Homo sapiens: one gene and its partner. The protein of the gene in region 2 purifies or fractionates together with the protein of the main gene of each other region. This does not show direct contact. Each region holds a gene or a part of one and is shown on either strand. Other genes may lie near its edges.

Region 1 (4,524 bases), on a different chromosome or scaffold from region 2:
GGAGTGCAGTAGCGTGATCATGGCTCACTGCTGCCTTGACCTCCCAGACTCAAGCATCCTCCAACCTCAGTCTCTCAAGTAGCTGGAACTACAGACTTGCACCACCACACCTAGCTAATTTTTAAACAAAATTTTTAGTAGAGACAGGGCCCCCCATGTTGCCCAGGCTGGTCTCAAATTCCTGGGCTCAAGTGATCCTCCCACCTTGGCTTCCCAAAGTGATGGGATTACGGGTGTGAGCCACCACATCTAGCCTCAGTCTTCATTTTGTTCCTGGAAGGAACACTTAGACTTTGATTTAAATCATGTTCCCGCTTGACCTGCCCACGTGCTAGGGAATGAGAGAATGTGAGACTGTTTGCCCTTCCATGTCCTTCTTAAATGCTCAGAGACTGAGCTTTGTAGTTAATGTTGGTTTTGTTGCCCAGGAGCAAAGCCATGCCTTTGCTTTCAGTGAATGTAACTCTAGCATTTTTTCCCAGGAATAAGGAAATTGTGAAATATCTGCTAAACCAAGGGGCCGATGTCACTCTTCGTGCAAAAAATGGATACACGGCCTTTGACCTGGTGATGCTGCTGAATGATCCCGGTAGGTAATTTCAAGAAAAGGGTTGTAAATCTACCCAGCGTTTCTTGGACTGGGAGTCAAGACAGGCACCTCCTCTGTGACTTGTGTTTTAAGCACTTGCTTATTCGTGGGGGAAAGTCACTCTCAAGTGTCAGGAGCTTACTGCATGATCTTAGGCAAGTTCCTTCCCTCCCCAGTGAAGCGCTGGACTTGGACCAGGTGGCCCCGGGGACTTCCTCCAGCACCAACCTCCTAGGAGTCTCTAGAGAGGGAAGGAAAATAAGACGTGTCTGACTTTGCAGTCCACACACACCCTAGAATGGCATCTGTGCTTCACAGCCAGAAATCCTGAGTCACTCAGGTGGAAACATAAAGTCCCCTTTGATAAGCAGAATGGGAGATAGAGCGATGGCCTTCTCAGCTTAATTGTGTAGGTAGAGGCTGCAGGGTCAAGGGTCGTGTACTGGGAATGTAGCCGTTAGTTCCACCCCATTTTGGCCTCGGCTGGTACCTGCTACTCCCCTTTGACCCTCCCCTGCTGTGACAGACCCTCTTTTGGGACCTGGGCTTCCAGTTAGCCAGCTCAAGGGGAAAGGTCTCTGATCTGTCGTCTTTCTTATCAACCTGGAGTTTCAACCCAGAGAGAGAGAAGCCCCGAGGCCCTTCTGACCCACTGGGCTTGAACCCTGTGCTGGGATTCTAGCTGTTGGCTGTGGGGAGAGAAGACTTTCACCTCTGCAGTCACAAGTCACCTGCTGCCCCTCTTAGCTAGAGGGGTAGCCAGCAGGCATGCCCTTCCTCGTCACAGCACTGCCACCCTTGCCACCCCTTCCCTGCTGCAGGCCCCTGCACTTCACAGATGCACACTTGGTTCTGTTTGACCCTCAAAGAGGTCTGAGAGGGGAAGCAGAGGTTCACATCCTCTTGAAGAGATGAGGTCGCCAAGACTCGGGAAGTGATCTGTCCCAGCCAGAGGGTTGGAGTCCTGTGCCCCAAGTCCAGTGATCCTACTCCACCTCATTGGAGACCTTCTTCACTTGCCAAGAGTTTGTTATTCGGAATCAGTCCGCAGCCACTCTCGCTGGATCTCATACACACTTTTTCTGAGAAACTCATCTTTTCAGTGTTCCTCTTCTCCCTAGCCTCCACTGCCGTTTATTCCCTTTCCCAATAAAACAGTCTATTCCTAGGAATATTTTGCCTACTGGGTTTTTAAATGAAGTGTTTACACAAAACTTTTGAAGAAACTCATGCCTATTATTGAATACTTGGAGAGAAAAAAGAAATAACCTGGCGTGGATGGCTCACGCCCATAATCCCAGCACTTTGGGAGGCTGAGGTGGGTCGATCACTTGAGGCCAGGGGTTCGAGACCAGCCTGGCCAACATGACGAAACCCCATCTCTACTAAAAATACAAAAATTAGCCAGGCATGATGGCGGGCACTGTAGCCCCAGCTACATGGGAGGCTGAGGCAAAGAACCGCTTGAACCTAGGAGGTGGAGGTTGCGGTGAGCCAAGATTGTGCCACTGCACTCCAGCCTGGGTGACAGAGCAAGACTCTGTCTCCAAAAAAAAAAAAAAAGAAATAGTCATCAAGAAAAAGCATTGTTAATAGTTTGGAGTAGTTTCTTCTCAATCTTTTTTGCAATGCTTTTTTTATATAACTGAGTTGGGTTCCTAATAACTTCATAATACTTAGTATTTTTAAAGCACTTGTATTGCTCTAAAGGAATTCCCGTGAATTGATAAGATACCTTTATGTGGTGGGTATTAATGTCACTGACTTGTACAGACGCACAAAGAGGCTTTGTAATTTACCTGCAGTTACACAGCCAGGGAGGGACAGAAGCAGAATCTGAACCTCTGCAGCCTGGCTGTGAAGCCTGCACTTTTAAACACACTGTCCCCCTGCCTTCCTCATGAGAGAGGACTTCCGGTTTTTCTTTCTGGTTAAGTAGGTTAAGCCCTGCTGGCTTTGTTTGCCACCTTTTGAAGATCAGATGGAGAGGCAGGTGCCTTGATTCTGGAATTACACAGACCCTGGAGCTGCAGGGCTGAGTTCTAAGTCTAACAGGGGTCATCTTGAGTCTTCTCCTTATGGCCCAACAGACATATTTGCAGGTAAAATGATGCCTTTTGTGTCCATAGACACGGAACTTGTTCGACTGCTGGCATCTGTCTGCATGCAGGTGAATAAAGACAAAGGCCGGCCGAGCCACCAGCCTCCCCTGCCCCACTCGAAGGTCCGACAGCCCTGGAGCATCCCAGTGCTGCCCGATGACAAGGGTGGACTGAAGGTTTGCCTTTTCCTGTCTTAAAGGGGCTTGGGGGCTAGGGAGATGGGGGCTGGCGGGGAGCCTGCTGCCTCCTATGCACCCAGGCTGGTTTATGCTAGGGAGTCCCTGCAGGGGTGGCAGGTGAGCTGGCATTGAGCAATAGGAAACAAAGGGGACCAGGAAAAACTGGGGAGACTGTGACCATGTTGTGGCAACAGTGGCTGCTTTGTAAGAATGTGGGTCCACGCGGCCGGGCACGGTGGCTCACGCCTGTAATCCCAGCACTTTGAGAGGCCAAGACGGGCGGATCACGAGGTCAGGAGATTGAGACCATCCTGGCTAACACGGTGAAACCCCGTCTCTACTAAAAATACAAAAATTAGCCGGGCATGGTGGCGCACGCCTGTAGTCCCAGCTACACGGGAGGCTGAGGCAGGAGAATGGCGTGAACCCGGGAGGCGGAGCTTGCAGTGAGTCGAGATCGCGCCACTGCACTCCAGCCTGGGCGACAGAGCGAAACTCCGTCTCAAAAAAAAAGAAAAAAGCTTGAGCCTGGTAGGCTGTGGTTGCAGTGAGCTGAGATCACGTCACTGCACTCCAGCCTGGGCGACAGAACAAGAACTTGTCTCAAAAAGGAATGTGGGTCCATATTACTAGATCTCTCTCTCTTTTTTTTTTAAAGGAAAAAATAGAAATCCAGATTTTGATATGGAATCTTAATTTATAAGTACAGGGAATTTTAGAAAATTCTGCATGATGTAGTACTGAGCTGGCCAAAGCAAACACTTCTCTTCCCAAGGAATCCGTTTGCAGCCTCTGCTTTACTGTGCAGGATATTTGCTGATCATGCCACTCTGGGGTCTCCCTGCAGTCCACAGGCCCTGCCAGCTTCCTGGAAACACCAGAAACAAGCTCTGGTGGCTGCTTGTAACTGCAAGCTGAGACTTTCTCTTTGGATTTCTCATCTTCCACATCCTGCTCTACTTGTTTGAAATCAAACTTACTTTATGCCTGAGAAAACAAAACAACACACTGGTCTTGTCTGCTGACCTCCCCAGTCTGCATGGGGTGGTAGCGCCTTCTGAGGGCTGCAGACTCGGCGCTCCTTTTGTGTCCATTGCTGGCTCAAGCTCTGCATCCTTCCTGACTGTGTTGTTCTCATAGCTCCCTTCATTCCTGCTCTTACTGCCATTTCCACAGGCAGGCCCTCACAGATGCCCTTCGTGGCTGTTCATTAACCTCTGAGTGGTCATGGGTTACAAGCGTTCCCAGGAGGTAGTGCCTGTCCTCTCTAGGTGAGGCTCAGCTATAGGAGCAGCTGGCCCAGGCCCTGGTATAGAGATCCTGATGCCTCTCACGTTATCACCAGAGCAGGAGGAGGGAGATTATGCTATTGTAGACGCTTAGGAATCTGGAGCTGCCTCTGTGTCCATCTGTCCCTGTCTCACTGTAAGACCTCAAGCAAGTCAGCAATCCTGTCTGGGTCTCCATTTCTCAATCTGTGCAATGAGGAGATTGATTAGATGAGGGGTGGCAAATAGGGTTCACTGCCACCTCCAGGCTATTGGAAGTGACTGCCTAAGGGCTGGGTCAGGAAAGATTTAGTGAGTAACCATGGCTTATTGGGAATGGGTGCTATCATTGATCAGTAATGTCTGTCTGGGCCCCAGGAGAGGGG
Region 2 (5,549 bases):
TTAGGGGACATTCAGATTTTTTTTTTTTTTAACACTCTGCAGTACTGAGAAAAAGGACTATAATGAACGCCTAGAATATGATAATGAATATATGTACATTTACTTAAGGTTTTGCAAACACGGAGAGACTATAGTTTATATATACAGTGTATTTTTAAGGTAAGATCTTAAAGTGTCCTTGCATTTAAAACAAAAACCACTATTATTATTATTATTATTATTATTATTATTATTGTGGTTCTTTTAGAAATTTCCTCTCAGAGTGTTTTATATGATTAGGGGCATTCAGATTGTTTTTAACTTTTTTCTCGTCATGTGAAACAACTCTTCCTAAGGTACTTCTATATAGTTGTGTGCACGTTTTATGTAAAACATAGGCAAGATAAAAATGTGTTGAGCTACTTTCCAGTTTTGATTTCCAATCCCATCCCCTTCTCATCAAGGCTCTGAAGGAGTTAAAGCTCTGTCTGGAGCACAGAAGACAGATGAGAGCCATTTTCAGCTTGTCCTGTCCCCACTGACGCTCACTGAGTAGCACAGCATGGACTAGCGTGTTTCACACACACTCTGCCTGTCTGGGGAATGTACACATTGTCCTTCCAAAATCAAACTTATTAGCACATGTAGAAAAGGGTGACTGACTTTGGGGCAGCCTGGCACTCCGTGTTGTATTCTTGCTGCTGTGGTTCAAAGATTTAGAAGGTTTTGAACAGGATGCGAACATTTTAAATTGAATTTTTAGTTTGTAACACTGCTTACCACAGTACTTGCTTGCACTTTAAATGTCAAGTTAGAACCTTGTCTTAAAATAAATTTAAATTCGATAATGTCTTTTTTAAAGTTGTTCATCCTTTGGGTCGTGTTTTTCTGCATAAAAATCTCATTTGGAAGCCTTGAATTACAGCTATGACTCATAGAGCTTTTGAACATATTTAATTTAATGTTTTTGAGACATTATCAAAAGAGTTCTAATTCATTGTAAACTATTTGGGGATCAGTTATTGCATTTAAATTGAAAAGACTGCTTTTTCTCAGAATAACCTTTATCTTCAGAAACTATTATGCAAGAGAAAATGCTCTGCATTCTCTTCCCTATGCTAGATTATAATTCAGTTTTAACTTCAGTTTCATGTTTGTTCTGTATGGTTGAGCTACACCTTGTGATGACTGTTTTGTTGTGAGATATAGTAGTTGTTTTTGTGTCATTATAGGTACAAAGAGTTTTTAAATTATGTGTTATTTTTCTTTATTGTTTTATGTTGCATTTGTATATAAAGAAATATGCTAATTCTCTATTTTAGGGAATTTTAAATGTTGGAAAAAAAATAACCAAAAGTTGCAGTAAGATTTTTAACTCTTAATAAATTTCCTCAGAAGGGGATATTCATAAAAATCAAAATGCCCAGGTATCTCTATTTAAAATATTTGTGATTATTTTCTACCCCCGTATAATATACTTGATGAAATCACCTTTTAAGTTACCATCTAACTATATCAGTTTCATTGGGGGCATTTTACAGATGGCTGCATTACAAAGTCCTTTCTATGGTGACAAAATGAATTTATACTCACTGTGTAAGAAGATAGAACAGTGTGACTACCCACCTCTTCCTTCAGATCACTATTCAGAAGAAGTAAGTCATTTTCAGCCCACATGTTCTTCTGTTGTCCATTTTGCTAACATTTTTATTTTACCAAGAAATTTTACTTTATCCAAAAATGAAAATGAATGGTATAGGTAGCAGAACTAGCACTTTTTAATTCTGTTTTCATTCTCTTGGAGACTTGCTGTCTAAAGAGTTGACTCTGCAATTGATAATGTGTAGTGCAACACAACACAGCATGTGGTGTAAAATTGGCCACTTTCTAGGTGTGATAAGAATAGTAGCTGACTCTACAGTGTACTGAATCGTGCAAAGGGCAGAATTAATGCTCATACTTAGGCTCTAGTTAATCATCATGTCTGATGGCCCTTCCTAACAGGGCTAACTCCTTATTCTCACAGTCCCAGACCAGACCAGCACACAGTTGTAATTTTCTATTTTGGCAGAACTTCCCTTTCGTCCATGTTTTCCAAAACTCGAAACACGCATCTCTTAACTACATATCTCTGAGCCTTATTATTTAAGCTTTACCTTCTCTCCTTTGACAATACCTGTCCTATCATCACCTCACTGCTATACTCAGATTCTACTGGGGAAATGTTTCGAGGTTATCATTGTAGACATGTTTAAAAAGTGTGTTAGTTGTGGCTGAAAATCTTAGAAGGCTACCTTATTAAGATCTGAGTCTGAATGCTTGCTTGCTTGCTTTGGTAACCCATTGAAGTGAGTTGTTTTGGCTCTACCCTATGTCCAGTCTTTCATTGAACAAAACATCTCCCATTTTAGCCTAACGTATCATCATTTTACGAATATTTAAGGAGGATGTATGCAGAATAGCAGTATCTCAGGTCAACTAAAATGTTTCATATTAGCTCTTTATGGAATACTCATCAGGGACCTACCCAGAGAAAATAGTGTGTTGAGTTAGGACATCGCACCTTCTCATGAGCAACAGATTTTTTGCCTCAGGAAAATGGAAAGGAGAAAAGGAAAAATATAAAACAATTATAATGTTCACTTATTAGGTAATCATGTCAGTCTTTCTATTGTGAAACGAATAGCATAGGGTCTTAGTATTATGTAAGGAAATTTGAGTTCGTGTAACTTGAATAATAAATATCTCTAAAGAATTTTCACCACATGTAAAGCATTTGTGTTCCTAGAATATAATAGGCACTTTTTCTTCTGGTAGTTTTGATACTGATAATCAGTGATGCCTGTTTTTTTCTGCATAGCATTTGTATTCAGGTAATTAGAATAAACTGTTACAGAGCAGTGATGATAATTTAAAAGTATTATCTTTATTTGATGTTAATACTATTATGTTAGCCATTTTTAATTACTATTTTGGGTATAGACTATAAATATGGCATTTCACAAAACCAACTTCAGAACTATAGGCCTGGAAATACAGTGGGGTGTGAACAATAATGCAAAATGATAGCAAGAATGTCAGGGGCCTTTCTTTGTTGTGTCATTCATGCTGTCTTCTTTTTTCCATGAAGCGCATGAATATTTCACATATCTGCATCCTCATCCCCTATTCTTCTTGACTAATTTTCAGACTGTCTGAATTTGCATTTCACATGGTAGCTGATTAGGAGATGCCGAGTGCAGCAGTGAAGCCTCAGCAGGCGGTTACCATGGTGACCTTCAGCAGGATTTTAATGATGATACCACTAGTGGTTCGTTGAAGTCGGCCTGCCTGCAGGGCTACTTCACTGCAGCTAAGTGTGAAGTTGGATATGCGGATTCTCAGCCAAGGGGCAAATATCAAAGTCTGGCCCAGATAGAAGGTCTTAGAGTTGGGAAAGGAAAATAGATTCCACTTTTTACTTCACTCTATATAGTTACCAGTTTCGAAAAGAGCTGTAAAGCAAAACACATTATATGGTGTACTTTCCAAAAAAATGTGATTCCTCGTATTGGTAAAATGTGTTGTCATTCCCTGATGAAATAGAAAGCTGTAGTTTCTAGGTAAATGTGGAAAATAATTCTTACTAAAGAAATGAATATAAAAATATGCGGACTGTATAACAATGTTACTTTAATCTATTTAGTTATGTAGAAGAGTTCTCAAAACAAGAGCTTTGAAATGCAGATGTGCTAATAAATATTTTCTCTCCTTAAGCAGGAACTCAATTTGTAAAATAATTATTCAGAATTCATGGTAGCCAAAAATCCCAAATTTGGTAGTGCTATAATGTCTTAAATTTTTTAAGTAAAGTAGGCTTTTTAGATCTTTTAAAAATCTAGAATATCATTTAATTTGTTAGTATGGCAAAATACAGGAACTAATAAAAAGTGAAGTACAGAGTTTTTCAACAGTGAACTTTTAATTAAAAGACAGTTTATTTTGTTAATTTTATAGCTACAATGATAACAGAGTGTGTAACTATTTGAAAAATAAAAAAATTTAAGCAAATCAACTTATCAGGTATGTATTTATGAGCTTACCAAATTTGTGTAGCTACTGCCAAATTTTTAAGGTTACTGCCCAAACAAGATTTTAAGGGAGGATTTCATGAGAATACTAGCCATACCTGCCAGTCAGCCTCAGTTGATAGGAATCCTCAGGAACCCTACACAATTTATTTCTAGATATAGTCATTCTATCTAAGAACCTAGAGTTTAAAAGCTTGGGATTTTTCTTTTAATTTCCTATCTTATATTCTAAAACATACATAACAATTAAGCATTAAAACAAAAAATGAGAAGTTTTAGAAAAATAAGCCTGAATGTCAAATCTTTTCTTTTGAATTATGTGAGTCTTAGTGTGTACAAATAATTAGGGTTCTGGATTGAAATATTTCAGCTACACATAAGTGATATTAGGGAATCTATATTTTATGGCTGACTTAAATATATTTATTTCTGATTTCTTTTGATGTTTTGTATTTTCTCCTTTTCTAGTAATGATCTCATCCATGTATCAATGGGCAATTACTATGTTTAGCAAGAGTCCTGGGTTGAAAAGATAGATATCTTTCCTTAGATGTCTCTTAGTTTAAATGAAACTTGGTATTGTTGGTGACAGTGAAGCAAACATTTTCTTATGTATAAGGAATTGTGACTCAAAAGGCCCGTCGTAAACTGACCTGGGCTCATCTCTCAAGAATTATTGATCATCGGATATTCTTTTCTTCTTTCTCTAACTCTTATCAATGCAAGTTCTACTAGAAGTTCCATAAATTTTCATGCTTTTATAGATGATGTTTCCTCTTTCTGAAATACCTCTTTTTCCTGTTCTTTCCAAAGAAACTCACTCTTTTCCTTTCAAACATAGCTTGGACATAAAGTTTTCCTGCACAGTTTTCCCTGACATCCTTTCTTCTCTCCCCATAGCCTCCTCCCTTGGCAGTTACGCCATGTTGTAGTAGCTTCCTTGCATGGATGCCTCCCCCTGCAGACTGTCAAGCTCCTGCCCTTGAGGATCAGTAACTCTGCTGCTTATCTGTATATCTCTAGGGCCTGGGGCCTGACACATTTTAAAAGGCTTAGTAATTGATTGATTGATTGATTGAGGGAATGTGGCAGGAATCTCAGAGTTAGATTAAAGGATGAACCAATAAATGACAATTGAATGAGTGAGAGAAACTTCTCCAAAGAACTCTCTGTAGAGTAAGGCAGAAAATTACTCACAAGATAGGCCAGAGGATGTGATAGTTTTCTTTTATTGATATTACTTTCTATTTTACATAGGCATCATTTTCTCTGTAATGCCAGGTGTCCATTTACTGGGAAATAAGATAAATAGACTGTTTTCCTTCCATTTCAGTATTTAATTTCTTTGAGAGACATTGGAGTAGTCATCAAAATTATCTATTTGTTCACAAACTTATCTCATGAAACTCTAAAATAGTAAATAGCTATATTGTTAATTATTTTGAAATTTAACTGATACTGTTAAAATGTCAGCATTAATATCAAGCAAAATATATACTT

Evidence for each region. The genes of interacting proteins can lie anywhere in the genome.
Region 1: the proteins of NEK7 (region 2) and ANKS6 purify together in Homo sapiens (affinity purification with mass spectrometry; 3 studies listed by BioGRID and IntAct, with this or other methods). This does not show direct contact.

What each region holds. Positions count from the first base shown.
Region 1 is NC_000009.12:98,778,532-98,783,055, reverse strand, and holds part of ANKS6 (ankyrin repeat and SAM domain-containing protein 6), read left to right. Parts: intron 1-482; coding exon 483-589; intron 590-2,718; coding exon 2,719-2,867; intron 2,868-4,524.
Region 2 is NC_000001.11:198,295,607-198,301,155, forward strand, and holds part of NEK7 (serine/threonine-protein kinase Nek7), read left to right. Parts: intron 1-1,520; coding exon 1,521-1,634; intron 1,635-5,549. UniProt on the Homo sapiens protein: Protein kinase which plays an important role in mitotic cell cycle progression. Required for microtubule nucleation activity of the centrosome, robust mitotic spindle formation and cytokinesis.